Linked DNA regions of Homo sapiens: region 2 is linked to region 1. Evidence: fine-mapped expression QTL. A gene starts in region 1. The other region holds a variant in brackets. All regions are shown on one strand. Distances are between the middles of the regions.

Region 1 (15,911 bases):
ATGGCCCTTGGGGGATGTGGTAGCAATATCTCCTCTCCTCTGCAACATAGAGAAAAAGTGGCAGAGGAGACAAATTCTGCCTGCCAGCCAGCCCAGACCTCAGCATCAGAGAAGCCACCAGGTTTGGGTGTAAGTCGGCTAAGCTGCCTGGGGGGTTGGAAGCCTGGTCAGCTATGGACCAGGAAACCAGCTCAGAAGTTCGAGAATGAGGTCCTCCCCACACCCTCTCATGAGACCTCCAGTCTCAGTCAACCTCTAGACAGTCCCTTGCTGAGTGCTGGAAATGCGGCAGTGGACAAGAGCAAAACCCAAGAGGTAGCAAATCAAGTGTCCACGCCAGTCAGGACCTGAGGTCTTTGAGGGAGGTAGAAGCCACCTAGGATGGGTCCTCCGGTGTGTCCTCAGAAGGGGGACTGGACACAGGGAGGGAGAGGAAGGGACTGCACCCTTGCCCCGCAGCACAAGATGGAGCTCAGGGCCCAGTGCCTTTCCTTGGTCAATGCCCACCTGGGCCAAAGTCTACTATGGTCCTGTCTACTCGTGCTTGTAAAGGTGTGGCTTAGGGTAAAAGCAGCTTAGGTCAGTGTGAAAGGCTCTGCTCCAAGGGCTACAAATGTTGCCTCCACTCCTGATTCCACCACACACACACCGCAGATATACACTCCACATACATACCTCAGCAATTCCAACCATTTTCTGGGCCTCAGTTTCCTTCTCTGTCAAAAAGTCTTTGCTCAAATATAAGGACAGTAAGGATAAGGATACTTACTATAAGTCTTGGGATTACAGGCATAAGCCACAAGGATAGTAAGTTTTTCTGTGCCTAATTTATTCATACAGTCAATGCTTATTAAGTCCCTACTATGTGTCAAGCACTGTTCTGATGCCTTGGAAAGACTGTGTAGAGCAAGATATTCAATGCCTGTGCTCTCTGGGAGCTGACCTAGTGGTGGGGAATCATTCTCTGAAATACAGTCATGAGTCACTTAACAATGTGGATATGTTCTGAGAAACATGTTGTCAGGTGATCTTATCATTGTGCAAACATCATGGAGTGTACTTACACAAACCCAGACGGCACAGTCTACTATGCACCTAGGCTATGTGGTATAACCTATTGCTCCTAGGCTACAAACCTGTACTGCATGCTACTGGGCTGAACATTGTAGGCAACCCTAACACAATGGTAAGTATTCATGTACCTAAACACAGAAAAGGTATAGTAAAAATATGGTATAAAAATACAGTATAGGACAGGCACAGTGGCTCACGCCTGTAATCCTAAGACATTGGGAGGCCAAGGCGGGTGGATCACTTGAGGTCAGGAGTTTGAGACCAGCCTGGCCAACGTGGTGAAACCCCATCTCTACTAAAAATTAAAAAATTAGCCAGGCATGGTGATGCACACCTATAACCCCAGCTACTCCATAGGCTGAGGCAGGAGAATTGCTTGGACCCAGGAGGCGGAGGTTGCAGTGAGCCAAGATTGTGCCACTACACTCCAGCCTGGGCAACAGAGAGAGACTGTGACTCAAAAAAAAAAAAAAAAAAGAAAAAAGAAAAAAAAAGAAACAGTATAAAAGATTTTAAAAAACTGGTACACCTATATAGGGCACTTACCACAAGTGGAGCTTGCAGGACTGGAGGTTGCTCTGGGTAAGTGAGTGAGTGGTGAGTGAATGTGAAGGCCTAGGACATTATTGCACACTACTGTAGACTTTATAAGCTACACTAAATTTATAACAAAGATTTATTTCTTTAATAATAAATTAACCTTAGCTTACTGTAACGTTATGTACTTTTTAAAACTTTTAAACTCTTTTGTAATAGCACTTAGCTTAAAACACAAACACATTGTACAGCCTTTCCTTCTTTCACTTTATTTATTTGTTTGGGACAGAGTCTTGCTCTGTTGCCCAGGCTACAGTGCAGTGGTGCGATCTTGGCTCACTGCAACCTCTGCCTCCTGGGTTCAAGTGATTCTCCTGTCTCAGCCTCCCAAGTAGCTGGGATTATAGACACGCACCAACATGCCTGGCTAATTTTTGTATTTTTAGTAGAGACGGGGTTTCGCCATGTTCGCCGGGCTGGTCTCGAACTCCTCACCTCAGGTGATCCGCCCTCCTGGGCCTCCCAAAGTGCTGGCACTACAGGCATGAGCCACCGTGACTGGCCCTCTTTTTTTTTTTTTTATGACAGGGTCTCACTCTGCCACCTAGGCTGGAGTGCCATGGCACAATCCTGGCTCACTGCAGCTTCAACCTCCTAGGCTCAGGTGATCCTCCCACCTCAGCCTCCCAAGTAGCTGGGACTACAGGTGCATGCCATCATGCCTGACTAATTTTTTTTATTATTGGTAGATACAAGGATCTTGCTATGTTGCCCAGGCTAGTTTCAAACACCTGGGCTCAAGTGATCCTCCTGCCTCAGCGTCTCAAAGTGTTGGGATTACAGGCGTGAGCCGCCACACACAGCCCGTTTTTGTTCTTTATATCCTTATCCTATAAGCTTTTCTCTATTTTCAATATTTTTTTTTTTACTGTTTTTGTTAAAAACTAAGACACAAACACACACATTAGCCTGGGGTCAGGATCATCAATATCACTGTCTTCCACCTCCACACCTTGGCGCACTGGAAGGTTTCAGAGGCAGTAACATGCAGCTGTCATCTCACGTGATAACCGCCTTCTGCAATACCTCCTGAAGGACCTGCCTGAGGCTGCTTTACAGTTAACTTTTTTTTTTAAGTAGAAGGAGTCCACTCTAAAATAACAATAAAACATATCATAAGTACGTAAACCAGTAACATAGTTGTTTATCATCATTATCAAGTGTACTGTACATAACTGTATGTGCTATACTTTTATATGACTGGGGGCGCAGTAGGTTTGTTTACACCAGCATCACCACAAACACGTGAGGAATGTGTTGCGCTATGACGTTACAGTGGCTACAAGGTCACTAGGTGATAGGAATTTGTCAGCTCCATTGTAATCTTATAGGACCATTGTCTTGACCCAAATGTAATGCAGGGCATGACTGTATGGTGGTGGGTGCTAAGGACAGAAGCAAAACAGAGTAAGGGGACAGAATGGATAGAGGGTGGTCAGGGAAGGTCTTGTGGCTGTCTGAAGGAAGGGCATTCCAGGCAGAGGGCACAGCAAGAGTCCTGAGAAGCAAATGTGCTTGGGGCATCCAAGGAGCCTGGAGGAAGCAGTTTATGGAAACTCTAGAAACAAATGAGGTCTGACCATAGCAACACTTTCAGAACAAAGGCCAGATCATGTCACTCCTCTGCCAAAGTCCTTGCAAGGCCTCAATGCAGTTGGCCTCCCTGCTACCCTCCTAGCCCCACTGCACTCTGTCCACACTCCCTTAGGGCTGCGGCTCACCCTTGCCTAAGGCTTCCCCCTAACTCAGAGGTCCTTAATCAGAATCACCCGCAGGGCTTATTAAAACACAGATGCTGAATTCCAGCCCAGTTTCTGATTCAGAAACTGATTTGAGTCTGGTGTACGGTCCTAGAATGTGCATTTCTAATGGGGTCCCTGGTAAGGCTGACACTTCAGGACTTGTTGCTACAGTTTTAGAAGTGCTGCTCCAGCGTTCTCTCTGCTGATACGGCTTTTTTTTTTTTTCTTCTTTTAAAGATAGAGTCTTGCTTTGTTGCCCAGGCTGGAGTGCAGTGGCACCATCTCGGCTCACTGCAACCTCTGCCTCCTGGGTTCTGGCGATTCTCCTGCCTCAGCCTCCTGAGTAGCTGGGACTACAGGTGCGTGCCACCACACCCAGCTAATTTTTGTACTTTTTGTAGAGACGGGGTTTCACCATGTTGGCCAGGCTGATATCAAATTCCTGACCTCAAGTGACCTACCCACCTCAGCCTCCCAAAGTGCTGGGATTACAGGCGTAAGCCACCACGCCCAGCCCGCTTTTGCCCCAGATACCCCACTTAATACTACAACTTGCTCCCCTCCTCCCCTGCACCCCAACCTCCTTCCTACTCTATTTTTCCTTTTTTTTTTTTGTCTTTTCTCTTTTTTTTTTTTTTTTTTTGAGATGGAGTCTCACTCTGTCGCTGGGGCTGGAGTGCAGTGGCGCTATCTAGGCTCACTGCAACCTCCGCCTCCTGGGTTCAAGCAATTCTCCTGCCTCAGCCTCTTGAGTAGCTGAGATTACAGGCGTGTGCTACCACACCCAGCTAATTTTTGTATTTTTAGTCGAGACAGGGTTTCACCATGTTGGCCAGGCTGGTCTCAAACTCCTATATCAGGTGATCTGCCTACCTTGGCCTCCCAAAGTGCTGGGATTACAGGTGTGAGCCACCATGCCCGGCCTAAAGAACTTCTTAAACATTAGTTACACACACATTTTTTTTTAAATGGAAAATCATCTGGTGGTGCAATGGCTCCCAAATGCTGGTGACCTAAGACCAATGATGGCAGAATAATTTTTTGTTTGTTTTGTTTGTTTTTTTTTGTTTTTTGAGAGAGGGTCTCCCTACATCACCCGGGCTGGAGTGCAGTGGTGTGATCATAGCTCACTGTAGCCTCAACTTCCCAGGTTCAAGTGATCCTCCCACCTCAACCTCCCAAGTAGCAAGGACTACAAGTGCACACCACCATGCCAAGTTAATTTTTTATTTTTTCAGAAACAGGGGTCTCAAACTCCTGAGCTCAAGGGATCTACTTACCTCGGCCTCCCAAAGTGCTGGGATTACAAGCGTGAGCCACTCACCTGGCCTGCTTGTTGATTTTTTTGAGACAAGATCTCTGTCGCCCAGGCTGGAGTGCAGTGGTGCCATCATGGCTCACTGCAGCCTCCACCTCCAGGGCTCAGCTAATCCTCCCACCTGAGCCTCCTGGGTAGCTCAGACTACAGATACATGCCACTATGCCCAACTAATTATTTAACTTTTTGTAGAGACACGGTCTCACTATGTTTCCCAGGCTGGTCTTGAGCTCCTGGGCTCAAGCAATCCTCTCACTTTCATCTCCCAAATTGGGCAGATTTTCCGTCTTTATCAAAGCCCCCACTCACCCACCCCTTACCCCCCACATCTCCAGATAAGTGTGAGGCATGGCCAGGTTTAAGAATTTCTGTGAGAAGCCTTACCTGTAGAGAAAGATTCAGGAGAATAAATTCCAGGGTGTAGCTTTTTACACTTTGCAAAAATGTGACCACACCCATGGTCATTTATCACTACCCACAAGCTCTCAGGCTGACCAGGCAAGATCACCGTCTCCCTTTCACAGAGCAGAAAGCTGAGGCCCTGGGGAATCAAGTAATACTCCCCGCTCAACACTCAACAGTCACAGCTGGTTGGTGGTGGAGGTCACACACCTGTGGGTGGCAGAGATATGATTAGAACTTGGGCCTCTGGCTGGGCGCAGTGGCTCATGCCTGTAATCCTAGCACTTTGGAAGCCTGAGGTGAGAGGGTCACTTGAGGCCAGGGATTCGAGATAAGCCTGAGGCCCTCCTCACTCCCCCACGCCGCCCCTCCCCCCCGCTCCCTTCTCTATTTAAAAAAATAAGAAGAAAGAGGGAAGAAAAGACCTTGGGCCCCTGAATTCTCACTCTAGGGCTCTCCCCTCTACATCAACTGGATAAACCCAAGTTCCAGGAAGTCCCAAGGATGCCACAGGTCGGGGGAAGGTCAGAGAAGGGAGAGAGAGTGTCAAATGCGTGGAGGGTAAGGTTCTGGGAGGCTGTCTCCTGGCCACAGGAAAGACTCCAGTTGCCCTAAGGACTTGGAAAACACATGGCATTCACACGCTAACTCTGGCTGCCTGTGACCTCAGGACAGCCACTTTCTCTTTGTGTGCTTCTCCTTATCACTGAAATGGGGCTGATAATCCATGCCCTGCCCCCAACAAAATACTTGTAGAATGTAAAGCACTTTAAAAGTCCAAGTTATTATTGCTGTTATCAAGAGAAGGCCCTTTGGGACAGAACTTAAATAGCCTTGGCCGGGCGCGGTGGCTCACGCCTGTAATTCCAGCACTTTGGGAGGCCGAGGCGGGCGGATCACGAGGTCAGCAGATCGAGACCATCCTGGCTAACACGGTGAAACCCCGTCTCTACTAAAAATACAAAAAAAATTAGCCGGGCGTGGTAGCGGGCGCCTGTAGTCCCAGCTACTCGGGAGACTGAGGCAGGAGAATGGCGTGAACCCGGGAGGCGGAGCTTGCAGTGAGCCAAGACAGCGCCACTGCAGTCCAGCCTGGGCGAAAGAGCGAGACTCCGTCTCAAAAAAAAAAAAAAAAAGAACTTAAATAGCCTTTCTTTCATCTAAGGGACACTTTTGAGCATCTACCACATACCAGGCACTGTGCTAGGCACTGTGCACACATGCCCTCACTTACCCCTCACAAAGGGTCAGTGCTGCTGTTCTTTACCTTTTACAGATGAAGAAACTGAGGCTCAGCTGAGAGTTGCAATTCATTCCATCATTAGTTCATTCACTCAGCTTTTACTAAAAGCCTGCTCTGGGCCAGGCTCTGGGCCAAGTGCTGAGAAGAAGAAGATGAACAAGTCCTTCAGGAGACGTGCCCATAAATTAATAACAACTAAGTACATGCTTCAACAGACAAGGTGCAGTGGGAACTAGAGGGGGAGCAACAGGCTCTCCTGGGGGTTATGGGAATGGACAGCTGACCTCCTGCGGGGACCCTGCACCGCTAAGGTGCATGCGCCCTGTGTAGCTGTGCAGTCTCACTTTGATCAAGGCTTTGCTGTGTATTTCCAGGAAGCCTCTTCCGCCACTGAGCCTCGGTCTCTACCTGGAAAGTTAAAAGGTTGCGTAGGCCTGACATCCTGCAGCTCTTGGGGGGCCTAAAACTCTGGCCCTCCCACCCCACCTTCTGGTCAGTTCAAGCTCTACCCCAGCCAAGTCCGATTCCGAAGCCCTGAGGGCCAGACCGAATCCCTCCGAAAGTGCCAAATACCCCGCCCCAGGGCGGTGCTCAGAGCCTGGGGCGTGGCCGGAGTCCCAAGGGGCGGGGTTCCAGTGGGAGGGGCGGGGCCAAGACCTAGATGCAGGCGTGCGCGGCCCGCCCAGAAGCGTCTCGCCCAGCCAATGAGCGTCCGAGGGCGGGGAAGCCCCGCCTCTGGGTATAAGAATACGCCGAGCCCAGCTACGCGACGCGGAGGTTTCGGAGCACTACAGGTTGCGGGCCTTTGTGACCCCAGGCTGCGGCCGCAAGGTGCGCAGTAGTGGGCTGGGCCGGGGCACCAGTCGGGTTTGGTTTTGCTCCGCCCGGCCGAGCTGCAGGGACCGCACGGTGCCCGGGTCTCCCGCCGCAGAGCAGCCGCTGGCCCGGGCCGGGGGAGCCGGCGCTGACCACCGCGCGCTGTCCCCGCAGGCAGCCGGCCTGCCGCCATGGCCGACCACCTGATGCTCGCCGAGGGCTACCGCCTGGTGCAGAGGCCGCCGTCCGCCGCGGCCGCCCATGGCCCTCATGCGCTCCGGACTCTGCCGCCGTACGCGGGCCCGGGCCTGGACAGTGGGCTGAGGCCGCGGGGGGCTCCGCTGGGGCCGCCGCCGCCCCGCCAACCCGGGGCCCTGGCGTACGGGGCCTTCGGGCCGCCGTCCTCCTTCCAGCCCTTTCCGGCCGTGCCTCCGCCGGCCGCGGGCATCGCGCACCTGCAGCCTGTGGCGACGCCGTACCCCGGCCGCGCGGCCGCGCCCCCCAACGCTCCGGGAGGCCCCCCGGGCCCGCAGCCGGCGCCAAGCGCCGCAGCCCCGCCGCCGCCCGCGCACGCCCTGGGCGGCATGGACGCCGAACTCATCGACGAGGAGGCGCTGACGTCGCTGGAGCTGGAGCTCGGGCTGCACCGCGTGCGCGAGCTGCCCGAGCTCTTCCTGGGCCAGAGCGAGTTCGACTGCTTCTCGGACTTGGGGTCCGCGCCGCCCGCCGGCTCCGTGAGCTGCTGAGGGCGGCCGGCGCCCGCCCGGCGTGCCGGAGAGGAGAAAGGGCCCGACTGCCCGCCGGACCCTGCACCCAGCGACTGGGCCCCGCGCGCGCCCTCCGCGAGGGTGGAGGCGGCGGCTGTGTGCGCAGGGCCCGGCACCGGACTGGGACCCTGGCGTCCCTCCAGGCCTTGCCTCCTGCGGGAGGACAGTTTGGCTTCACTTCTCTGACCCCAGCCTCGGCCGTAAAGTGAAAGAGACCGGACCAGCTTCAGCTTTCGGACTCTGGTTCTTGGATCGTGTCCTCTCCCCCTCGCCGCCCTCTTCCCCCAATCTGAGCCATTGCAGGCCTCTGCCTGCTGCCCCCTCTCTCCTCGGGATCGGGTCCCCAGAGCCACCATCTCCTGAGCCTCCCACCCCGCTGCCTGGGCCCTGTGGTTGCTGGGCCTCCCACCTCAAGGAGGGGAAGGTTGTACAGCCCGAACCCGTGGAGCAATGCCCTGTCTGGCCTCCAAAACCAAAATAAAACTGGGTCACTTTACAGTCTTGCCGTTTTCATTTCCTTATCACCCCGAGCCCTGACTATATTTAGCTTCCAAAGTCCCAAGGTTGCTGAAGACACTGGATGGCATGGGGGCCACAGTCCCCAGCAGTGCCCAGGAGAGGAAACCGACAGTTTCTTTCAAAAATATCTCGTGGGTTGTGCAATTGTTATGTCACAACCTGGAGGGCAGAGGCTGCCACTGGGTGGTGGGGTAACCCACTGGGCTTCCCAGCTCCTAGGGTAGGGTGGGGGGAGCTTGGTGCTCTGCCAGAGAGGAGCTGGGTGGCACCGAGTTCAGACAGCCTAGCTTTGGACCCTGACTCTCTCCTTTGCCCAAGACACCATCCGTTCTGATTTTTGAGGCGGTTTCCCAGAGGGAGATGGTCCCCGTCTCCTCAGGTAGTTACGCTGCCTTTAGCACAGTGCCAAATACCTGGGCAGTTCTCAGTAAGTGACGGCAATTATTATTCTACAAATTGGTGCTGATTTTATTCCAGGCCCTGTGTCAACCTGGTGCATGTTCTCATGGAATCACAGCCCAGGTGGGAGGAGGTGGGTGATAGGCCTGAAAACAAACTAATCTTGCTGCAAGGAAGACTGTGATGAGTTCTAGAAAACAGTGCTAAGCAGCACTTTGGGAGGCCGAGACGGGCAGATCACGAGGTCAACAGATCGAGACCATCCTGGCTAATATGGTGAAACCCCGTCTCTACTAAAAATATAAAAATTAGCTGGGCATGGTGGTGCGCGCCTATAGTCCCAGCTACTCGGGAGGCTGAGGCAGGAGAATCGCTTGAACCCAGGAGGCAGAAGTTGCAGTGAGCCGAGATCATGCCACTGCACTCCAGCCTGGCAACAGAGCGAGACTCCTCAAGAAAAAAGAAAATAGTTCTGGGGGGGATTGTACAGCCAGGACAATAGACCGGCCAAGCGGGCACACCCAGAGAAGGGAGCAGTTTCAGCTATTAATAGTTGAGGTTGGGGTCAGTTCAGGCTTCAGGGAAGCGGTGACATTTGACGTGATGAACAGAGCCTTGAGTGATGAATATGTTTTTAGGAGAGGAGCCTGTTTCAAGGCAGGAAGGCACACAAGTACGATGAATGTTTGGGGAAGGTGTGGGGTGTCTAGAAGGTACAAGAAAGGTCGAATGGCTTTACGACAACTTCGTGAGGCAAGCACAGTCCTCATTCTACACATGAGGGTTGTGGAGTGTGCCCAGGCCTGGCAGGATTTGGCCTCAGAGTCCTGAGCACCAGCGTGAGTTCCTGGCCACCCTCTGCAGTTCACTCTGGAAAAATCCCTAGGTGCTTCTGAGATGTGGGAGAAAAGCTGGGAAAGAGATTGAAGTCAGGGAGGAGGCCGGGTCAGAGACGCTGCGGTGGTGGGGCATTCTCTAGGAGAGCATGGATTCCAGGGACACTGGAGGGGAACACCAGGCTGAGACCTTCTGTCCCCAGCAGCTGGGCTTGACTCTCAAGCCAGGCTTTTTTGTGGATGTGACCCTCCACCAACCTGTGAGTTCTCCCAGGACCTACTGTGCTCTGAAGCTACCAGGATGGAATGTGGCTGGTGACAGGAGGTGTTTGGCAAATGAATAAAGGTCTCCCTAAGATCATGGGATTTCTGGGACAGGATGAAGAGAGAAAGGAAGAGAGCCTTCTGGGAAGGGACTGGCCTGAGCTCTGGGCTCAGAGGGGCTGGCATTTGCCCACCCCACCGCCCCGCTGCTTTGCCCAGAACCCCAGGCCAGAGACAGAAACCACAGGGCTGAATTAGTACAGGAGGGTTTGACCCTGAGCTGAACACTTCCCTGATTCTCTTCTCTCTCCCCTCAGTTTCCACACCAGTAAAATGGGGCTAATATCCCTGCCCTGCTACATTACAAAGCAATAACCCTCACAATTAGTAAGGAACAAATTCAGAGATGGGTTGATAAGCAGTTGGCAAACTCTGAAGTGCTCTCCATATGGAAGGGATTACAACGAAAACCCCAACACCTGCCTCTTTCCAGAGTTAAGGGGGAAGCGGAGGAGAGAGTCCAGCTGCTGAGCTCTTCCCTCCTGCATCCCTCCAAAAGGGACTGCTGACAAGTTGGACAGCAGACAGATGGACAGGGGAGAAGATGAGGCTGGGGCATCCCACAGCCTGGATCCCCAAATCCCTGATACTGTTTGGAGGCTTCTGACCCTACCATCCCCTACCAGGGGAAGAGAGAGTACGTGTAGAGACAGTGAGGAGAGCAATGGGCTTGTCGTCTGACAGCCTCAGGGTCCAGTTCAGAAGCAACTCTTACTAGCTGCCTGACCTCAAGGAAGCCACCACACCTCCCGCATCTTGGCTCTCCTAAGATAATCACACGAGCTTCCGTGGTGCCAACAGGGTGTCGCTCATGTCTCCCCCAGGGCTGCCTCCTAAAGCAACCTGTTGCCAAAGGGTGCTGTGGATTTCTCTCTTATACCTAGGCTGGATCTTGGGGGTCAGAAATCAGGCTTCCTCAGGGTTGAGAACTGAGTCATGACACAAGTCATTTTCCCATCCTTTTGTTGTTGTTGTTTTGTTTTGTTTTCCTATTCATATGAAAGTTTCCAGGCTGATGTTCTTTATTTTGAATTATCTTTTGGTTGACTGGATTTTATCAACAAGCTGTCATTTGTGTGTGTGGTTTTTTTTCCTTCAAGAAAAGTATAATTTCCCTTGAACTCATCTCTACAATGGGAATGCTAATAGTACCACCCTGCAGAACTGCTGTGGAGATTAAACAAGTTAGTGCAGGTAAAGTATTGAGAGCAGTGTGGTTTGTAGTAAGTGCTGTTATCCCTGATAACAGCACTTTTTGGAGATGCCTTTGTATTAGAATATTAGAAAGGCTGTGTTTTAACCAGCTAGAAAGGGGTTACTCCAACAAGCAACACTGTTACAGGTGGGGTTCCCTGGGAAGCAGACTCTGAGATGACATTCAGCTAGCAAGAGGTGTATTAGGGAGTGCCTTCAGGATCAGCAGCTGCAGAAGGGAGGGGACAGAAGGAGCTAAGAAGCTACAAAGCAGGCCCAGCAGGAGCCTCAGCCAGCCCCGCTGGGAGCTCTGGAGCTAGAAGGGCCCTTCAGAGTTGGCCTGAGTTGGACCATTTTAATCCTTTATACTCCTGCCTCCATCAGTCACTGGATGTGAGCCACCCAGAGAAGTGGTGTGACTGTGGGCAAGGCAGCTGTCCCCAGCTAAGCTCATCCCTGGAGGAGCTGCCAGGGTACGGCTGTCTACCAACAGCAGCACTCCTGGGGGCTAGAGCAATGATTCCTTTTCTTCTCTTTTCTTTTGTTCTTTTTTTTTTTTTTTTTTTTGAGACAGAGTCTCACTCTGTCGCCCAGGCTGGAGTGCAGTGGCGCGATCTCTGCTTACTGCAACCTCTGCCTTCCGGGTTCAAGTGATTCTCTTGCCTCAGCCTCCTGCATAGCTGGGGTTACAGGTATGTGCCACCGGACCCAGCTAACTTTTGTATTTTTAGTAGAGATGGGGTTTCACCATGTTGTCCAGTCTGGTCTCCAACTTCTGGCCTCAAGTGATCTGCCTGCCTTGGCCTCCCAACGTGCTGGGATTACAGGATGCACCACCGTGCCCAGACTAGGGCAATGATTTCATAGAAGGGGGCTCTGGGCGGCACATCACAGTGTTCACCACAAGCACTGGGGTGGGGACTCTGGTTCCCAACAGCAAGGGACTCTTTAAATTTATGCCCTGGGTATCTCTTTTGCCTCACCTTAGTCTCAGACCTGACCAGCACCTTCCCCATTACAGAACAAAAACAACAAAATGTAAATGTATCAACCTTACAGGTTTGATGTGATGAGACTCTATACAAAATACCCCACACATGGTAGATTCTCAATAACTGAGCGCTGCCATCACTATCATAATTGTCATTGTCATCATCATCGTCATTGTCATCATCATTATCATCATCGTCATTGTCATCATCATCGTCATCACTCCAGGTCAGATAAGTGTTCAACAGTCATTTATCGAATAAATTAATGATCAGTCTGATCCTAGCCTTTTCCCAGGCAGCTTAAGTGGTTTAGCTGATTACTAAGTAATCCTCTTGAATTCCTTAATCCATCGTGGCCTAACTCTTCATGCCACCCTGTTGTTAGAAGTGCTGGGACAAGATTAGTGCCAACTATAAGACCAAATAAGTGCTTACTGAGTGGCTGCTGCGTGCAGGCATGGTGGGAACTGACGGGGAGTGCCCAGTGGCACTCTTTCTTTTCCAGTCTCTCTTTAATCACCGCCCAACCCTGTAAATAGCACTGCTAGGTAGTTTATCCCCATTCCAGAGGTCAGAAAACTGGGGCACTCAGAGAATTACTCCAAGTCACACCTCAGTAAGAGGTGAGGTGAGCATGTCCACCCCACCATATCCAGGGCCTGTCCCCTTCCCAGGCTGGATCTGGCCAAGGACCTGAGCCTGGGTGGGATAAGAGCAGAGTCCCAGAGCTGATCTGCCACTCTGAGGCTGTGAATTGCAGAGGAAGTTACTGGGCCTCCTTAGGCTTTGATTCCTTCTTCCATCCAATGGAGAGAATAATTCCAACATCTGAAGAATGTGTGTGCAAAGATTCACATGAGGCTGGGTTTCTGAGAGCACACTGCAAGCAGTGCAGTGCTGCCTGGCCAAAGTGGGTTTGTGGCTGAACAACCATGGCCCTTATCCTGTAGCTGGTCTGGGAAGAGGACACCTGCATATACTTTGGGGCTTGAGATCTGGCCAGCCTGGAGCATGCAACGTAGAGTCTCATGTTGAGGGCTCTAAGGAGGCACTGCTGAGCAGCTCAGCGTCTGGACGGCCCTGAGGGCTGGTGCTGATAAAAGAGTGGGATGTGGGTCAGCTTGGGGAGGACACACAGGTTGGGGGACTGGGCATGAGTAAAGGCCCAGGGCCCAAAGTGTGCCCTGATGGATAGAAGAAATAAAGGAAGCTACTCTGAGTGCAGTCCCCTCGTCTGTCAAATAGAGACACGATAAGCTTCTTGTGAGAATGAACCAAGGTGATGTTAAGTGCCTGACCCGTGAGCTGCTCAGGTGGAGCTGTGGCTGGGAAATATGACCACAGGGACGAGAAGGACAGAGCCCTGCCCCACCCAGCCTCCAAGTGCCTTCCCACCCTCAACTCCAGCCACCCCAGGCTCCTCATGCACGATGTTCCTCGTGCCGCCAAGCCTCTGTTCCTTTGCCTGTGCCATTTCCTCAGCCTGAAATGCCCTCCATAGGGCCTTTTCCACATCCAAAGGCCTATTACCTTGTGTGTCAGAGTCGCTGAGGGGTCTTTCTCCACCAGACTGTAAGGCTCACCATCGCCCCCTGTGTGGCTCAGAGGGCATTAGGAAGTGCTGGGCCAGGCATGGTGGCTCACACCTAGAATACCAGCACTTTGGGAGGCCGAGGCAGGAGGATCACTTGAGTCCAGGAAAATTTTAATACATTTTAAACTTAAAATTTCATTTTTTATTTATGAGGTGTAGTTAACTCTAAGGTTGGCAAAACAAATTTTCAAAATAATTTTTTAAAAATAAAAATAGTCTGGGCGTGGTGGCTCATGCCTATAATCCCAGCACTTTGGGAGGTCGAGGCAGGTGGACCATTTGAGGTCAGGAGTTCGAGACCAGCCTGGCCAACGTGGTGAAACCCCATCTTTACTAAAAATACAAAATTAACTGGGTGTGGTGGTGGGTGCCGGTAATCCCAGCTACTTGGGAGGCTGAGGCAGGAGAATCACTTGAACCCAGGAGGCAAAGGTTGCAGTGAGCTGAGATTGCACCATTGCACTCAAGCCTGGGCAACAAGAGCGAAACTCTGTCTTAAAATAATAAAAATAAATAAATAATAAAATAAAATAAAATATTATAATCCTATTTATATAAAAAAGAGATGTGTATTATGTATATGTATGTAACGTATGTGTAGTATAATGGAATCGTGTGTGTTTGAAAAGTCTTGTGTGGGGGTGGTCTGACTTTTTACTCTGTGCTTTCTACATTGTTTGAAAATTATTTTGTCTTAAGCGTATATTTATTTTGACCAAAAACATGTGTTTGTTTGAAACAAAACGATTGGCTCACACCCTTTCTTGGGCTAGGGCAGTCTGCTGTCTGATGTGCCCGTTTTATGGCAAAGCCCTAAGCCTGAGCTCCTCTGTGGGAAGAGGCATACAAATGAGCCCCGCTGGAGACCACCCTCTAATGGGCTGTGGAGGACTCCCTGCTCCATCCCTGGCCACACTTCTGCTTCACGGAGATACCTGGACTTGATGTTCGTGGATATCTACCCTCCGTGACTCTACAAATGAGAACAATCCCCAGACAGGTGCGGTGGCTCACACCTGTAATCCCAGAACTTTGGGAGGCTGAGGTGGATGGATTACTTGAGGTTAGGAGTTCGTGACCAGCCTGGCCAGCGTGGTGAAACCCCGTCTCTACTAAAAATATAAAAATTAGCCAGGCATGGTGGCGGGCGCCTGTAATCCCAGCTACTCGGGAGGCTGAGGCAGTAGAATCGCTTGAACCCAGAAGGCAGAGGTTGCAGTGAGCCGCGATTGCGCCATTGCACTCCAGACTGGGCAACAAGAGCGAAACTCTGTATCAAAAAAAAAAAAAAAAACAACGCCTTAGAATCTTGAGTGTCACACAGACTTCAATGGGTCCTGCGCTCAGCTCCCTATTTTAGTGGGGGGCGGGGGCGGGGGGGCGGGGTGCCATGTTGCCCAGACTGGTTTCGAACTCCTGGGCTCAAGTGATCTGCTCGCCTCAGCCTCCCAAAGTGCTAGGATTACAGGCAGGAGCCACTGCGCCCAGCCAAGCTTCTGGATTTAAACGAAGGACAGGGGTGGTCCGGCTCTCCTCAGAGACGTCTGTGGAGTGGTGCTTCTGCCCCTAATGAGACAGCAACACAGACAGACGAGCAGCAGGGCCTGAGAGACTTGGCGTCAGACCTGGGCTTGTCTCTCAGGCCCTGCTGCTAGCTTGAGTCTTTCAGGCCCTTCTGGGTTTGAATCTGGCTCCAAACTACATACATGACATTTGGCAAAGCCACTTTACCACTGTTAGCCTCTGTTTTTGTTTCTAAACTAAAATATGTTCCAATACTTACACACTCAACAGATGGGATTAAACGAGCTATTGGCTGATGTACTTAGCACGGTGCCTGGCATGCAGTAAGTTCCCAATAGCAATAGCTATTTCCAACTTGGCACAGCAGTGCTGAGTCAGCAATAGCTGTGAGTATGTCCAGAGAAGGGGTCCAGGGTGGGCAGGGAGGACTTCAAACCATGTCCCACGCAAATGGCTGAAGGACGGGGCTCTTCAGCCAGCGGAGAAAGACCCAAGGGCAGAAGTAGGCGTCTGCTATTTATGCCTTCCAGGATTTAGTCACCCTTCTCCTGATAAAAGGTTTCCCAAAAA
Region 2 (15,911 bases), 67 kb before region 1:
TTACTGGACCCAATACTTCCCCCCTCCTTGGGTCTACATCTTTGCCATATGACTTTGCAGTTTGGGCCACTAAAGTGTCAGAGTGTATTTCTACTCTTCTTGACTCTGGCCTTGGCCATGTAACTTGCATTGGCCAATGGGATTGAGTGGAAGTGACAGCATGTTACTTCTGAGTCTGGGTCTTTCTTCTTTGTACCTTGTCTTCAACATGAGGGCATTCACTGGTTAGCACAGTGGTCCCAGGAGGAAGATGAGGGATACAGGGAGCAAAGCCATCCAGCTGACCCAGCTTAGATAACCTAGCTCACAGCTGCTGTGGCCTAAAGCATCCCAGCTGATCTGCAGATCTATGCCAATAAATACTTGTAAGCCGCTGAGTTTGGGGACCATATGTTACACAGCAGTACTCTACCAGTAGCTAACAAATGCAGGTATAAACATGAAGGTTTATTTGTAATGAGAAAATAAATCACAACAGATAAGATTTTAGCAGCTGACAAATAGCTCAAAAGTCACAGAATCCAGAAAAATACATAAATTTTCATTAATTGCCATCTGACATACCTCTATAATATCCTATATGTTGGCTACATTTTCTTTGGTTGCCTCTCCAATATAACAACTTAAATTTTTTTTTTTTTTTGTAATTTTGTGTTTCTACAGAGAGGAGGGAGAGAGGATTCTCTCTTTCTTCTGAAATGGTTTATTGAAAAATACTTTTTAATTGGTAATTTAGTAAAGTTTCGTCTAGCATCATAACTGACTTTAGGTCATGTTGTTTCAATTATTAAGATTGTTGCCAAAGTTGTGAAAACCTCCATCAAGTTTCTTTCAGGACATTTTCAATTTTCTTGTACAATTAATTGTAAATCTTCTTTTAATTGATTCTCATTATCCATTTGTCATCAATGTTCTTTTGTAGTGGTACATTGTAAGTTTCATGCTTTCTTAGTTCAGTAATGTGTGTCAACTCAGCAAAAGTAAATATTTTTTCCACTGTGTCCATGATCTACTCCTTTTTATTATTCATTATTATTATTTTGAGACACAGTTTCACTCTCCTTGTCCAGGCTGGAGTGCAATGGCCCGATCTCGGCTCACTGCAACCTCCACTCCCACATTCAAGCAATTCTCCTGCCTCAGCCTCCTGAGTAGCTGGGATTACAGGCATGAGCCGCCACGCTCAGCTAATTTTGTATTTTTAGTAGAGATGGGGTTTCTCCATGTTGGTCAGGCTGGTCTCCAACTCCCGATCTCAGGTGATCTGCCAGCCTCGGCCTCCCAAAGTGCTGGGATTACAGGTGTGAGCCACCGTGCCCAGCCTATTGTTATTATTTTTAGACAGGGTCTCACTTTGCCACCCAGGCTGGAGTGCAGTGGTACCATCATAGCTCACTGTAACCTCTAACTCCTGGGCTCAAGTGATCCTTCTGCCTCAGCCCCCAGAGTAGCTAACTGGGACTGCACTGCATGCCACCATGCCTGGCTAATTTTTTTTTTTTTTTTTTTTTTTTTTTGCTATGGGGTCTTTCTGCCATATCTTATGGGCTAGAAAAAAATTTTATTTAAAAATAAAATAAAATAGATTTGGGGGTCCTTGCTATGTTGCACAGGCTGGTCTCGAACCCTTGGGCTCAAGCAATCCTCTCACCTTGGCCTCCCAAAGTGCTAAGCTTACAGGCATGAACAACTGTACCCACCTATTCCTTTTTAGTAATTGGATTACCAAAGACTCCAGAAGGCTATTTATACCTGCTTTGCAAATTTATCTTTTCCTCTTACTGAGTTACTGCTTTTGGAATGATCTGAAATTCTTTTGTTACCATTTTCTTCCATCGATTTTCTGTTGATTTCTACTGGTTTCATTGTTCATTTTTATGGCCTTTATTTTATGCTCTATTAAGCTTTAAATATTTTTTGTCAGCTATTTAATATATAAATTTAAAGGTAACAAAAGGAAATATGTAATTTCTTAATTGTTTTATTGGAAATCAGATGTCTGTCCTTCAGAGAGGCCTTGACCACTCAAATCATGGAGCTCTTCCCAGCACTTTTTAACCCTTGATTTGACTTTCTTTTCCTTTACAGCAGTTGATCTGATGTTAAATTACGCACTCACGTGTTTGTTGTCTGTCTCCTCCAGTTAGAAGCTAAGGAATTAGCTCCTTGAGCCCTAGAACATTGACAGATAAATAGATATTTGTAAAGTCAACGAATGAATGAGTTCCCTAAGTGCCAACCAGTGTCCACACTGTGATTTCTGTCCAGCTGCTTGACGCACTTCCAGGACTGGTAAGAGTCAGTGACTGCTGAGAATCCACAGTGCCCTGAACCCTACCAAAACGCCCCACCCCCATCTCCTTTGTACTAAACTGGGTCTCCATTTGTGACATCTTTTCCATTAAAAAAAAAAAATGTGTCCTGGAGTGGTGATCCCAGCACTTTGGGACGTGAAGGTGGGAGGATCATTTGAGCCCAGGAGTTTGAGAACAGATTGGGCAACATAGCGAGACCTTGTCTCTAAATAAATAAATAAATAAATAAATAAATAAATAAATATAAATTAAAAAGGGACAGACTCAGACTTTTTTGATAGATTATACAAGTTATTTCTCTCTCAACCCAAAGTCTCTGTTCAACCTATAGTTACTTTGCCTACTTTTATATTCTTAATATAGCATGATTTAACTTTCTGTATTATTCTTACCCCCCCTTAAACGAGTAACCCCATTTGCAGCCTCCAACTCAGCATATCCTAAACTGAATGCATCACGTCTCCCTGCACGTGAGCGGGTTCATCTTCAGTTGTTCAGCCACTCAGGCCATGAGTCCAGACGCATTCTCAGCAGTTCTCTCTTCCAATTGCTGCCCATTCTCCATCAGTCACTTATTTCTGTCATTTCTTTGATCTCCTCACCATTTCTTTCATGCTTGCATTTCTCTCCTTCCCCACAGCCAGCACCCCAGTCCAAACCCCTGTCTTCTCTCACCTGGATCAATCTCCTACTGGTATCCTCTACCAGTCTCTGAAATGGTTTGTTAAGACGCAGATATGATCTGGTCACTGCTCTGATTGAAACCTTCAAAGGCTTCCCAATGCTCCTGGGATAAAGCCCTCAATCCTTACATGCCCTGCCAGGGCATGCATGGTCTGCCCCCCTCTGCAAATTCATCTTCTACCTCTGCCTTCTCATTCCCTGCCCTTTTGCCACTCTGGCCTTCTCTGAGTTCTTCCAAAATGCCAAATTATTTCCTGGCTCAGTATCTTTGCACACTCTGTTCCCTCTGCATGGAATGCCCTTCCATCCCCTCTTGGCCTGGCAACTGATGCTTATCCTCAGTCTTAGTTTAAATGGCATATCCTCCAAGAAGCTTTCCTTGAACCGTGGGACAAGCCTGGGCCATCTGTTTTATTCTCCCATTGTGCACTGTACTTTTCCTTCTCAACATTTATCAAAAACATAAATAGGAAAGCATAAATAGGGCCAGGCACAGTGACTGATGCCTGCAATCCTAGCACTTGGGGAGGCCTTGGCAGGAGGATTACTTGAAGCCAGGAGTTCGAGACCAGCCTGAGCAACACAGTAAGACTCAGTCACTACCCAAATTTTGAAAAACTTAGCCAGGCATGATGGCTCAAACCTGTAGTCACAGATACTTGGGAGGCTGAGGCAGGAGAATGGCTTGAGCCCAGGAGATTGAAGCTGCAGCGAGCTATGATTGCACCATTGCACTCCAGCCTGGGCTACAAAGCCAGACCTTGTCTCGAATAAATAAATAAATAAATAAATAGTTACTAGTATAATTGGTCATTCAACGTCTGTCTTTCCTATTAAACTAAACTCTGTGAGGCAAAGCTGTCTATTACAATAACAATCGCTGAACACATCTATAGCTCTTCCTATGTGTTTGGGTCTGTTCTAAGCACTTTTTATGTATCATCTTACTGAATCCTCACAGTAACCCTTCAAGACAAATACTTTTTCTTTCCCTGTTTCATGAGTGAGGAGACTGAAGCACAAAGAGGTCAAGTAACTTGTTCAGGGATGCATAGCTGGTAAGTAGTGGAACCAGGATTCAGAAGCAAGCCGTGTCTCCCAGAATCCTAGCTTTTCCTACTTCCCTTATTGCCTTCCAGGTTTGTTGTGTTTCCCATTATGCCCCCAACATCCAGCACAGGACACATGATAGGTGTTCAATAAATATGGTGGAATGTATGTCTAAGCATGCATTTACTGAGAACTTACTAAGTGCAAAGCACTGTGGAGAAACCAAAAATATGGACCTTACCCTTAGCGACCTTTAACTAAAATCACGAGGAAAACAGATTTTTATTTATTGTTTATTTTTTACCTGACTAAGGAATACAGAAAAGGTTCTTAGAGGAAATGTTTTTTGGTGGTCCCCTGGGAACAGATAGATAGGACTCAAATGGATCTCGGGTGGGGGCAGGGGAGCAAGGGAGGCCAGATGCTGGGGAGGCGAGAGTGAGGGCTGGCAGCCCTGCAGGAATGCTCACTGGGAGGACTGGAAGAGCAAGGGTGGGGCAGAGGACACAGACTGAGGGAGCCCAGGGGAGGGAGTCAGCTCTACCAACTGGAGGAGGGGTCGGCCAGTCTGGGCCTCCTGTGATGAGTAAACAGGCGTTGGGGAGGAAGGGCTTTGTGGAAAGAAAGACCCACCTGTGCAGAGCATGCAGGCAGGAAATTGCAAAGGGTGTTCAGGAAACAAACGCATGTCCTGTGGGATATTAATGGGATTCTACAGTCAAACTCACTTGGGAAATTCTGCACTGAACAAGGTTAAACAAATGTCTTTCCTGCAATGTTCCTCAGAACCCTTAATATGTTAATGTGCATTGGGTCTACAAGGCAGGGGTATATGAGTGACATTTCCAAGAAAGGCTTATTAACTTGACAGCACATTAGTTAGAAAAGGGTGGCAAAAAAGCTGGCGGGTCAAACAGCTTGGGGCGGGTGAGGAGGGTCTGGGATGCCAAGCCAGGGAATATTCACATTAGCTTAGAGAGCACTGGAAGAATAAAAGATTTTTTAAGCAGGGTGGTGACGTAAGCCCGGCTGAGAGCTAGCAAGCTGCCTCCAAAGTCAGTGTGGGGATAGATGTGAGGAAGGAAAGAGATTAACGTGTTGATATAGTTTGGATCTGTGTCCCCACCCAAATCTCACATTCAATGTAATCCCCAGTTTTGGAAGTGGAGCCTGGTGGGAGGTGATTAGATCATGGGGGTAGGTTTCTCATGAATGGTTTAGCACCATTCCCTTGGTGCTGTCCTCTCAATAGTGAGTGAATTCTCCCGAGGTCTGGTCATTTTAAAGTGTGTGGCATCTCCCCCTGACCTCTTCCTCCTGCTTCGGTCATGTGACATGCCTGCTCCCCCTTTGCCTTCCGCCATAATTGTAAGTTTCCTGAGGCCTCCCCAGAAGCCGAGCAAATGCCAGCATCATGCTTACTGTACAACTTACAGAACTGTGAGCCAATTAAACCTCTTTTCTTTGTAAATTACCCGGTCTCGGGTACTTCTTTATAGCAATGCAAGAATGCATAATACATGTGTATTGTTGACTTACTCTGTTCAGCCACTGTGCTAGCACTTCAAGTATATAAGTGCATTTAATCTTCACAACTCTGCAAGGGTAAATGCTATTGTCCCTACTTTAAAAGTTGAGAAAACTGGCCAGGTGTGATGGCTCATGCCTGTAATCCCAACACTTTGGGAGGCCGAGGTGGGCAGATCACAGGAGCTCAGGAGTTCGAGACCAGCCTGGCCAACATGGTGAAACCCCACCTCTACTAAAATTACAAAAATTAGCCGGGTGTGGTGGTGGGGACCTGTAATCCCAGCTACTCAGGAGGCTGAGGCCGGAGAAGTGAACCTGGGAGGTGGAAGCTGCAGTGAGCTGAGATTGCGTCACTACACTCCAGCCTCAGCAACAGACCGAGACTCCGTCTCAAAAAAAACAAAAAAAAATTTGAGAAAACTGAGGCTCTGAGAGGCTGTGGGGCCACCTGCCCACCACTTATTGAAATATGTGTGTTAATTCACTGTGCCTCAGCATCTGTCTACTTGTGGAAATGAGCCAGCTCCTGAATCTAGGTCAGCCAGGGAGCAAAAGTGTGGGCCCGGCTGGGGAAGGAGCTCTGGGTGTGGGAAGAAGAGCTGGCTTCTGAGACCCTGAGCACTGTGGCCCTCTCCAGGACCTAAACCCTGGAACTAGCTGGGGCCTGAGGGAGCCGGGCATGTAGAGCTCCCCAGAGAGGCTGGAGAATTCACCCATGGATGACACAGGCATCCTCACCCCAACTCCCCATGAGAACAGAATCGGAGGCCCCATGGGCTGGCAGAAGGGACCTTGGCCTTGAAGAACACTTTCTTTGGTTCTCTCCCCTGCAATGCACTGCCTGAGAACTGACGGATGGCCATGGTTCCAGCCAGCTCTGCCACCAACCTGCCAGGTGATTACCTCATGTGTCAACAACATGATCCCTTTTGTTCCTCCCGGCTCTGAATGCCCTCTTCAGAACTCCTGTTCACACAGGTGCCATGTTGTGGAATCCTGGCTCTGGTCCTTCTTTCAGAAATTTTGGGAACTGGTTGTCATGTATCTGACAGATCAGCCTCATCTCATCTCACCTCTCACAACAACTCCATGGTGCCTCTGTTCAATGAGTATTTACCAACTCCCCACCCTTTGCCAAGTGCTGTCCTGAGAGCTGTGCTCACAGAGGTCCATCTTATGAAGCAGATATTGTTATGAACCCCATTTTTCTGATATGTTTGTTTATTTTAGAGACGAGGGGCCTCGCTATCTTGTCCAGGCGCGTCTCAAACTCCTGGCCTCAAGCCATCCTGCTCTCCAGCCTCCCAAGTAGCTGGAATTACAGGTATGAGCCATTGTGCCCAGCTACCCAGTTTTCCAGTATGGAACCTTGCCCAAAGTCTTGCCCTGGGTAAGACTTGAAATCAGGTCCGTCTACACTAACATCCCAGCTCCTGACCACCCAGTGTCACTGCCACCCATGTAAGCCCGGGCTCGGGACTGGAGCCCATGCCTGCTGGAGCAGGGATGGTGAGAGAGAAGGGGGCATGTTATGACCTCACTGTGCCCTGGGGTCATTCTTGGTTCTGCTACCTCCTAGCTGGGTCACATGGGGCAAATCATCTCACCTCCCTAAGTCTCAGTTTTCTCATCTGTGAAATAGCCCTACAGTATTTACCCCAAATATTTGTTGGGAGGATAAAATGACATCTTGAATATCAAGCCTCTTAGTACAGTCAATATTAGTTTCTCCATTTAAAAAATTTAATTTTCCCTAAAATAACCTGCCCCTTCTCATGCTCATTTCCAAAGGCTTGCAATGAGTGATCCAGAAACAAATGAATAAATAAAGGGATTTCCCAAATTCCCTGAACTCTGGTGTTGGAGTTGTGCAGCCTCATGTATCTTTATATGGCCTGCATGACATCAATGATGACTCACATTTCTTGATCATGTAATATGCTCTAGAAACTTTCCTGGGTGTTTTACACACACAGCTGTTACAGACCAGAGCTAGTTGTCTTTTGTTGTTGTTGTTGTTTTGAGACAGGGTCTTGCTCTGTCACCCAGGCTGGAGTGCAGTGGTGCCATCTTGGCTCACTGCAGCCTCGACTTCCTGGGCTCAAGTGATCCTCCCATTTCAGCCTCCTGAGTAGCTGGGACCACAGGCGCATGCCACCATGTCTGGCTAATTTTTTAATTTTTTGTAGAGATGGGGGTCTCACTATGTTGCCCAGGCTGGTCTCAAACTCCTAGGCTCAAGCAATCCTCCCAACTCAGCCTCCCAAAGAGCTGGGATTATAGCCGTGAGCCACTGAGCCCAACCAGAGCCAGGATTTGAACCCACAAAGTCTGGCTCCATGGCCTGTGCTCTTAACCACTCTGCTACTTTGTTCGGGAGGTCCAATGTAAACTTCTGTGTATTAAATTGTGAGATCCCAGAGGTCACAAACCATGCCTTATCTGGGATCCAGCATAGGCCTGGCCCTGAATGAGTTTCAGAAGATTCTTTCATTCATTCACTCACATTCACTCAACCAGTATCTCTGGAGGACCTTTGCAGGTCAGACTCTGTTCTAGGAGCTGGGGATACAGCAAGGAAGAAGGTAGAAAAGACCCCTGTTCCCATGGCAACTACTTCCAGTAGAATCCAGGGTTGCATGGCATTGAGTGACTGGGTGGCTGCTCTTATTGGGTGGTCAGGATGGCCCCTCCAAGGAAGGGATGTTTAGCTAGGACCTCAGTGATAACAGGGAACCAGCCATCTGAAAATCAGAGGGAAGAGCATCGAGATAGAGGGAACAGCAAGTGCAAAGACCCTGGGGTGAGAAAAAACTGGGCATATTTGAGAAACAGAAAGAAGCCCATTGTGGAGTGTTAGTTGGGGAAGGGAGACAGCAAGGCAGGGGCCACATCATGGGGACTTCATGAGCCAGAGGAAGGAGTTTTATTATGTTGTTCAAAGTGCAATAGGAAGCCGTTGGAAGGTTTTAAACAGGAAAATGACATAATCTGATTTTTAAAAAATTAATAGACTTTATTTTTAGAGTAGTTTCAGGTTTATAGAAAAATTGAGCGGAAAGTCCAGAGTTCCCTCTCACCCTCTACTGTGCATACATGCACACATATCACAATTTCCCTTAGTATTAGCATCCTCCATTAGAGGGGTACATTTGTTACAGTTGATGACCCAATACATTATTATTAACTAAAGTCCACAGTTTACATTAGAATTTGCTCTGTATTGAACATGAGTTTTGAATAATGTATGACCTGTGTCTACTATTATAGTAGCATACAGATTAGTCACACTGTCCTAAAAACCCCCTGTTTTCCAC[T/C]GATTCCTCCCTCCTCCCAAGGCCTTGGCAACTACTTTTTTTTTTTTTTTTTTTTTTTTTGAGTTGAGTCTTCCTCTGTGGCCCAGGCTGAAGTGCAGTGGTGCGATCTCAGCTCACTGCAACCTCTGCTTCCCGGGTCCAAGCGATTGTCGTGCCTCAGCCTCTCAAGTAGCTAGGATTACAGACACGTGCCACCATGCTTGGCTAATTTTTGTATTTTTGGTAGAGATGAGGTTTCACTATGTTGGCCAGGCTGGTCTCGAACTCCTGACCTCAGGTGATCTGCCTGCCTCAGCCTCCAAAAGTGCTAGGATTACAGGTATGAGCCACCGCACCTGGCCACAACCACTGATTGTTATACTGTCTCCATAGTTTTTGCCTTTTCCGAAATATCATAGATTTGGAATAACACAGTATGTAGCCTTTTCAGACTGGCTTCCTCCACTTAATCTGATTTTTTTTTTTTTTTTTTTTGAGACAGCATCTTACTCTATTGCCCAGGCTGGAGTGCAGTGATGCAATCATGGCTCACTGAAGCCTCAACCACCCGGCCTCAAGCAGTCCTCCCACCTCAGCCTTCTGAGTAGCTGGGACTACAGGCACATGCCACCATGCCTGGCTAATTTTTAAATATTTTGTAGAGATGGGGTCTCCCTAAGTTACCTAGGCCAGTCTTGAACTCCTGGGCTCAAACAACCCTGCCTCCATCTCCCAAAGTGCTGGGAGCACTTTGGGAGTGAGCCACCGCACCCAGCTTGATCTGATTTTTTAAAAGATCAAATTGGCTGTATCGTAGGAACAGATTGGAAGGGGACAAAAATAACAAAAGGAAGACCAGTTAGGAGACGAAGCAGTCATCCAGAGGCTCGATGAAGTGGTGGGCCAAGCTGGTGGGGAGAAGTGTGTGGACCCCAGGTGCACAGTGGAGACCCAACTTTTGGGAGCTGCTCATTGAGTGAGTGCAGGGGAAGGTCAAGGATAGGAATGATTGATGATTACATCGCCAGGGTTAAACCAGGCCTGCACAGAGTGGGGTTTTAAAGTGTTCATAGATATTGCTGTGGTTTTTAATCCCCTTAAATACTCTTGTTGTTCTCTTAGAAATTGAAGAATCAGTTCCAGAGAGATCTCCTGGAGGGCCTAGGATCACAGAGCAAAGCAGAAACCACAGCTGTCTCGGAGGACGAAACTCCAGCTCTTCACCCAGAGATAGTCGTGGGCTGGTGGCTTCAGGGCCCACTAGGGCCTTTGTTATGAGTTTTCTCTTCCCAGCGGTCCTTTTATTGCATAATCAATAAACCACTGACAGAAATAAAAGGCTTCCAGATATATACGCTGCTGATTCCCTGCCTGGAAAACCTTCCCCTCTGCCCTCCTTAAAACCTCATGGCTTCTTATTGCACATTGCACCCGGGGGGGGGATATCCACTTAGAATTGAATCTCAGTGAAACTGCTTGTTAACTTACCCTGACCTCTGAGTTAGTTCAGCTTATTTTGGTCTCAAGTAACTACCTTAAGGCAAAAACAAACAAACAAACAAACAAACCTGGGAGGGAGTGGTGGGATGGATATCTTGGGAGCTATGGAGGCACCACACAGACTGAAGGAAGAGGAGTTGAATCAAGGATCGTCTGAAGAACAGGTCTAGCATGTCTCCAGGGATCACTGCAGTAGAAGCCTGCTGCCTTCAGGGGACAAGTCTACCATGACCCCAGATGCTGCTTCGCTCCACTCCATTCAAACTCCCAGCAGGCCTTGGATGATTCCAGCTTGGTCAGGAGTGCCCCTCACCCACTGCTGAGATCAGTTAAGTCTTGGTGGGAGCACAGAACCACATGGTACAAACGGAGTGGGATGGGATCGTTCCAGGCAAAATCTTCATGGGAGATGAAGCTGTTCATGGCCCCCCAGCCAGTGTTGGTCATTCTGTCCCTGGTAACCCTATAGCTCAATCACAGCACTTCACAGATTGTCTTATAATTATTTGCCCCAGCTGGAATGCAGTGGTGCAATCATAGCTCACTTCACCCTCTATCTCCCCAGCTCAGGCCATTCTCGTCCCTTAGCCTCTGGAGTAGCTGGGATTACAGCACACACCACCATCCCCAGCTAATTAAAAAAATTTTTTTTCCTGTTGCCCAGGCTTGAACTCCTGGGCTCAAGTGATCCTCCTGCCTCAACTTCCCAAAGCTCTGAGATTACAGGTATGAGCCACTGCACCCAGCCAATTTCTTGACAGTGTATGTCACTTTCACTGGGCACTGGGTTCTTCCAGGATTGTGGCTTTGACTTACTTAATCTGTTATGCTGCAGGGGTGCCCCTGTTGCTGTTCTCCCTTCTTCTGCAGTAATTGGGACCTGTTTTTAGCAAGGCTAATGGCCTCCCAAAGTCCTGACGTGTCTTAGTCTAGCTTGCAGCTAGGGGTGTCCAAGCAACAAGGTTCTGGCCAATGCATAAGGAGGGAGGTGGTGTGAGCAACTTCAGTGAGACCTTTCCTGGAAGAAGCATGCCCTCCGCTTCTCCTCCTTACCCTGCTGGCTGGAACATAGACATGGTGGTGTACCCCATAGGACCATGTGGAAAAAGGTAACTCCCTAGAAATGCCAGAGCCCCCCCAGAGAGCGAGCCATGGTCCCTGACACCCTGAAGCTGCCACATCGGCTTTGAACTGCTTCCCCGCTGAATGTTCTGAGAGGCACTAAAACCTCTTTTCTCGTTAAGTCTTCCTGCAGCCTAATATAATCCATACTAATAGCCATGCCTAACATGCTGACCGACCTTAGTACGTGCTTAATAAATGATGGTTGAGTTATTAAATCAATGACAAAGAGAGAAATACTCAATGCCAGCATTTATCACATTGACACTGCATATTCTTTCTAGCTCCTCTCTACATACAGTCGATATTTTAACAGAGGTATAATTAGAGCAGAAATAGAATTTTATATCCAGCATTTCCCCAGTAATAGTAATTACGTAATAAACATTTTCCATGTCAAGTCCTTGTATCATCATTCTAAATGAATGTGTCATTTTCTTTTCTTTCTTTTTTTTTTTTTTTGAGATGGAGTCTCACTCTATTGCCTAGGCTGGAATGCAGTGGCGCGACCTCAGTTCACTGCAACCTCCACCTCCTGGGTTCAAGCGATTCTCCTGCCTCAGCCTCCTGAGTAGCTGGGATTACAGGCATGCACCACCACACCCGGCTAAGTTTTGCATTTTTAGTAGAGATGGGGTTTCGCCATGTTGGCCAAGCTGGTCTTGAACTCCTGACCTCATGTGATCCGCCCGCCTCAGCCTCCCAAAGTGCTGGGATTACAGGTGTGAGCCACTGATCAACCATAATTTACGTAACCACCCCGTTATTCTTCGGTATATACATTTTCCCCATTTTTCCTAATTATAGAGAATGCTACAAGAAAGTTACTTATGACTTTATGACTATTCTTTTGCCTTTTCCTTTTGACAAGTCCTTTGAGAATGGGATTGTTGCCTTTTCTAATATTTTAGAACTCTTTCTACCTTCACCGGCCACTCCTGTTTCATAATTGCCAATTAAATTGTGAACAATGGTCATGACGGGAATAACAATTACAGTAACAACAGCTGCTGGTTACTGATCACTGACTATGTAACCATATCATGCTAGGCACTTTTCATCTTTTTGTTTCACATATCCGCATATAGCTATACATACTTTCTCTCTCTCTCTCTCTCTCACACACACACACACAAGCATGGGAAGTGGTAGTTAAAAGTGCGAATTCCAAGGTCAGACTAAATTCAAATCTTAGTAAAACAGCTTCTTCACTATGAGACCCTGCATAAATTACTTAACCTCTCTGTGCCTCCATTTCCTCATCTATAAAATGAAGATAGTAATACTTTCTTTATAGGGTAGCTATGAGGACTAAATGAGATAACACAATAATAGCTGGCATTTCTTGAACACCTACTAGGTGCCAAGCACTATGCTAAATAAAGGCTTTATGTTAATTCACTTATTTCTTGCCAGATTATAGGAGCTAAGTATTTTCAGCCTCATTTTGCAGACAAGGCACCTGAAGCTCAGAAGGTAAAGACATACCTGCCCAACCTGCAGGGAGCTGAGCAATTCTCACCTGGGTCACACTGACCTCACAGTCCCAGGCTCCTCCCAAAAGGATTCTTCTCTTTAAGCAGTCTCAAACGCTCAATTTCTCCAGCATAATCTCTCCTTCCGCCCCCATTCCCATCCCACAAGGTGCAGCCTTCTTTCAGGTGTCCCCTCCCCGCCATCACTATTGCAGCATAGAATGCCACAGAAGCTCAGTTAGGAACAATCCCCATTTATCAAGTGCTTCCTCTGGGCCAGACCCTGTGCTTGGTGCTTTATATCATTATCTCATTTAATCCTCAGACAGTCCTGGAACATAAGCACCATTACCCCCATGTTACAAGTGAGGAAACCCAGGCCCAGAATGCTGGAGCAAACTGCCCAGCGTTGCAGGGTCATTGCATTCAGGAGCTGAGACTCCCAGTCAGGCTGAGAAATGCAAGTCTAGCATCTTGCCACCCTCACCCACAGCTGCCTGGGATGGTGGTTCCCAGGGGATGGGGAAGATCGTGTTGTGATGGTTCCAGATGGCCTGATGGTTCCCCCTGCCTGAGGGCAGCCATGCAGAGAGTGCCAGCACAGCGTCCACTAGAATCTCCCTGCCTCTCAAGGCCCAAGGCCCTAGGCCCAAGGCAGGGCCGAGATCCAAGGGAGAGCGGTCGGACGGGCTTTCTGTGCCGCCCCTGAAATAGCCAGCTCAGCTCCCCAGCTCCAGCTCTGCAACTGCAGGCGGATCCCGGAATAGCTCTTTCCTCCTGCAAGGTGACCTAGTTAGCAGGTTCCTCTTGTCATGTGAGGTTGGCTGAGCAAGACATTTACCTACCTCTGTCTACCCAGAAAAGCCTGATCCGACACTTTCCTCTCCTCCTTCCCCCGATGCTGTTCCTGATTCTCCCACGGTTCACTCATTCTAGAAGTCCAGGGAATGGATGATAATGCACTAAGCGTGGTGCTTCAGGGCCTCAAAGCATGTTCACAGACATTATCATACTTCCTTCTTACACCAGGCTTGGAGGGCGAATCTATTATCAACCCATTTCACAGCTGAGGAAATAAAGGTGCAGAGAGGGTAGGCAACATGAGCAAGGACACACGGCTGGGAGGAGGCAAAGCCAGGATCTGGACCCAGGTTCCTGAAACTCAGACCAGTGTCCCTGCAGTGCTTTGAGTTTCCCTGGTTTTATGCACCTCTCTGAGGAGCCCCAGTCACTAAGCCTTCCTCACCTATCCACTGCCTGTGTTGGACCTCCTGAACACCTATCTGGTTGTAGAACTGGGTGCAGAGGTTGAGATCAAGGACTTGGAGGTCCACCAGCCTCAGGGTGGAGCTGGGATTTGAGTTTCAGCATTTATCAGCTCTGTGGCCTCAGGCAAGTTGCTTTGCCTGCCTGAGACTCAGTTTCTATATCTGTAAAATGGGCATAATAATCATACCTGCATCCTAGGGTTTCTATAAGGATTAAATAAGATAGGGTACATAAAGTGCCCAGCAGCTTCCTTTCATTTTGCATATTTTTGATAAAATAGCTATTGTTGTCCAGGCACAGCGGTACATGCAAGTAATCCCAGCACTCTGGGAGGCCCAAGCAGGCAGAGGGTTTGAGCCCAGGAGTTTGAGATCAGCCTGGGCAACATGGCGAAACCCCATCTCAGCAAAAAATACAAAAATTAGCTGGGTGTGGTGGTGCACACCTGTAGTGCCAGCTACTCGGGAGGCTAAGTTGGGAGGATCACTTGAGCCTGGGAGATTGAGGCTGCAGTGAGCAGAGATCACTTCACAGCAATCCAGCCTGGGTGACAGAGTGAGTTCTGTCTCAAAACAAACAAACAAACAACAACAACAAAAAAACTATTGTTGTTATTATTATTGACATCCTGAATTTAACCCAAAAAGGAGAAGCTTAAGATGGGCTAGTGCCAATGAAGAGTTGCTGTAGTAAAGGTTGTTATGACTATTCCCATGCCATCATGCACAGGCCTGGAAGAAAGAGTCATATTGACAATAACACAACTCCAGCATATGGCAGTTTCTTCTGAAGTGTTGGCCCCTTGTTCCACTGGATGGCTGCTGGCTCCCTGTAGGAACCCACTGCAGGAGAGGAGAGAGGTGTGGGCAGCCTTGGCTGTCACCCTAGGGGTGCTTATTCACTCTGCAAGTGTCACATCCCACTGGCAGGGGGCATAGAGAAGTGCAGGGTGCCTACTCCGGTGATCCCTGGGTGCTGTGGGTCGTGCAGAAGTGAAGATGCGGAAGGAGATTAGGGGCAGGTCTGGGGACCCCTGAAGACCATGATCAAATTATGTAAAGGCAGAAGTGGCTGAGGGCTAGTGAGAACGAAGCTGGACTTGGGGGATCAGATGCTGCATTCAAATCCTTCCTCCACCACTCCTTATATGTGAGCCCACAGATAAGTTGCTTAACTGCTCCAAGCCTCAGTTTACCCATCTGTAAAAACTGGGCATAATTTGAACCTCATGGGAAGGTGGCGAGGCTTGGATGAGTTACCTACGTGTTGCACCAGCACAGTGATAGGCATGACATGGGGGCAGAGTACATGTTTGAGAATTTGAATTTGAAGTCTAGCCAAGCCCCAAGACCCAAGGTACCATCTTAGGAATTTGGAAGAAGAGATGAATGTGGTCTGGAGTAAACAAAGAAGGCTCCAGAATGATAGCATGACTGGCCTTGGGTCCTGAAATCTAAGTATAACAAGGATGCTGGAGAAGCTTGGGGAGGCCATTCAGACAAGAGGTCCAGTGGGAGGAATGGGCATGGCACACAGACAGGACAGTCGCTTTCCGTCACACCCCATGGAAGGTTTTTTTTTTTTTTTTTTTTTTTAGAAAGAGTCTCATTCTGTCACCCAGGCTGGAGTGCAGTGGCACAATCTTGGCTCACTGCAGCCTCAACCTCCCA

Direction of the effects. Alleles are on the strand shown, and positions count from the first base shown. SD is a standard deviation of normalised expression in the study named.
For the expression in monocytes after R848 of the gene that starts at base 7,148 in region 1, allele C in region 2 goes with a higher level than allele T (moderate effect, 0.54 SD a copy in Quach 2016).

Evidence for each region.
Region 2: its variant is fine-mapped to the expression of CITED4 in monocytes after R848 (Quach 2016, PIP 0.95). The same link has a PIP of 0.9 or more in monocytes after Pam3CSK4.

What each region holds. Positions count from the first base shown.
Region 1 is chr1:40,853,600-40,869,510 of GRCh38, reverse strand. It overlaps CITED4 (Cbp/p300 interacting transactivator with Glu/Asp rich carboxy-terminal domain 4), which reads left to right and starts at 7,148. Exons shown (of 1, transcript NM_133467.3): 1 at 7,148-8,457. The coding sequence starts at 7,384. The coding sequence ends at 7,938. It overlaps LOC124904157 (a long non-coding RNA gene), which reads right to left and starts at 7,127. Exons shown (of 3, transcript XR_007066025.1): 1 at 6,401-7,127; 2 at 5,116-5,343; 3 at 2,580-2,763. It overlaps LOC105378676 (a long non-coding RNA gene), which reads left to right and starts at 12,017. Exons shown (of 3, transcript XR_947239.2): 1 at 12,017-12,449. RefSeq lists silencers at 840-1,134, 6,922-7,121, 7,282-7,361 and enhancers at 3,239-3,788, 3,789-4,338, 6,762-6,821.
Region 2 is chr1:40,920,946-40,936,856 of GRCh38, reverse strand. No RefSeq gene overlaps it. Among named protein-coding and RNA genes, the nearest start is that of CTPS1, 51 kb to the left of the region's middle. The variant T/C (reference allele first, on the strand shown) is at 8,897.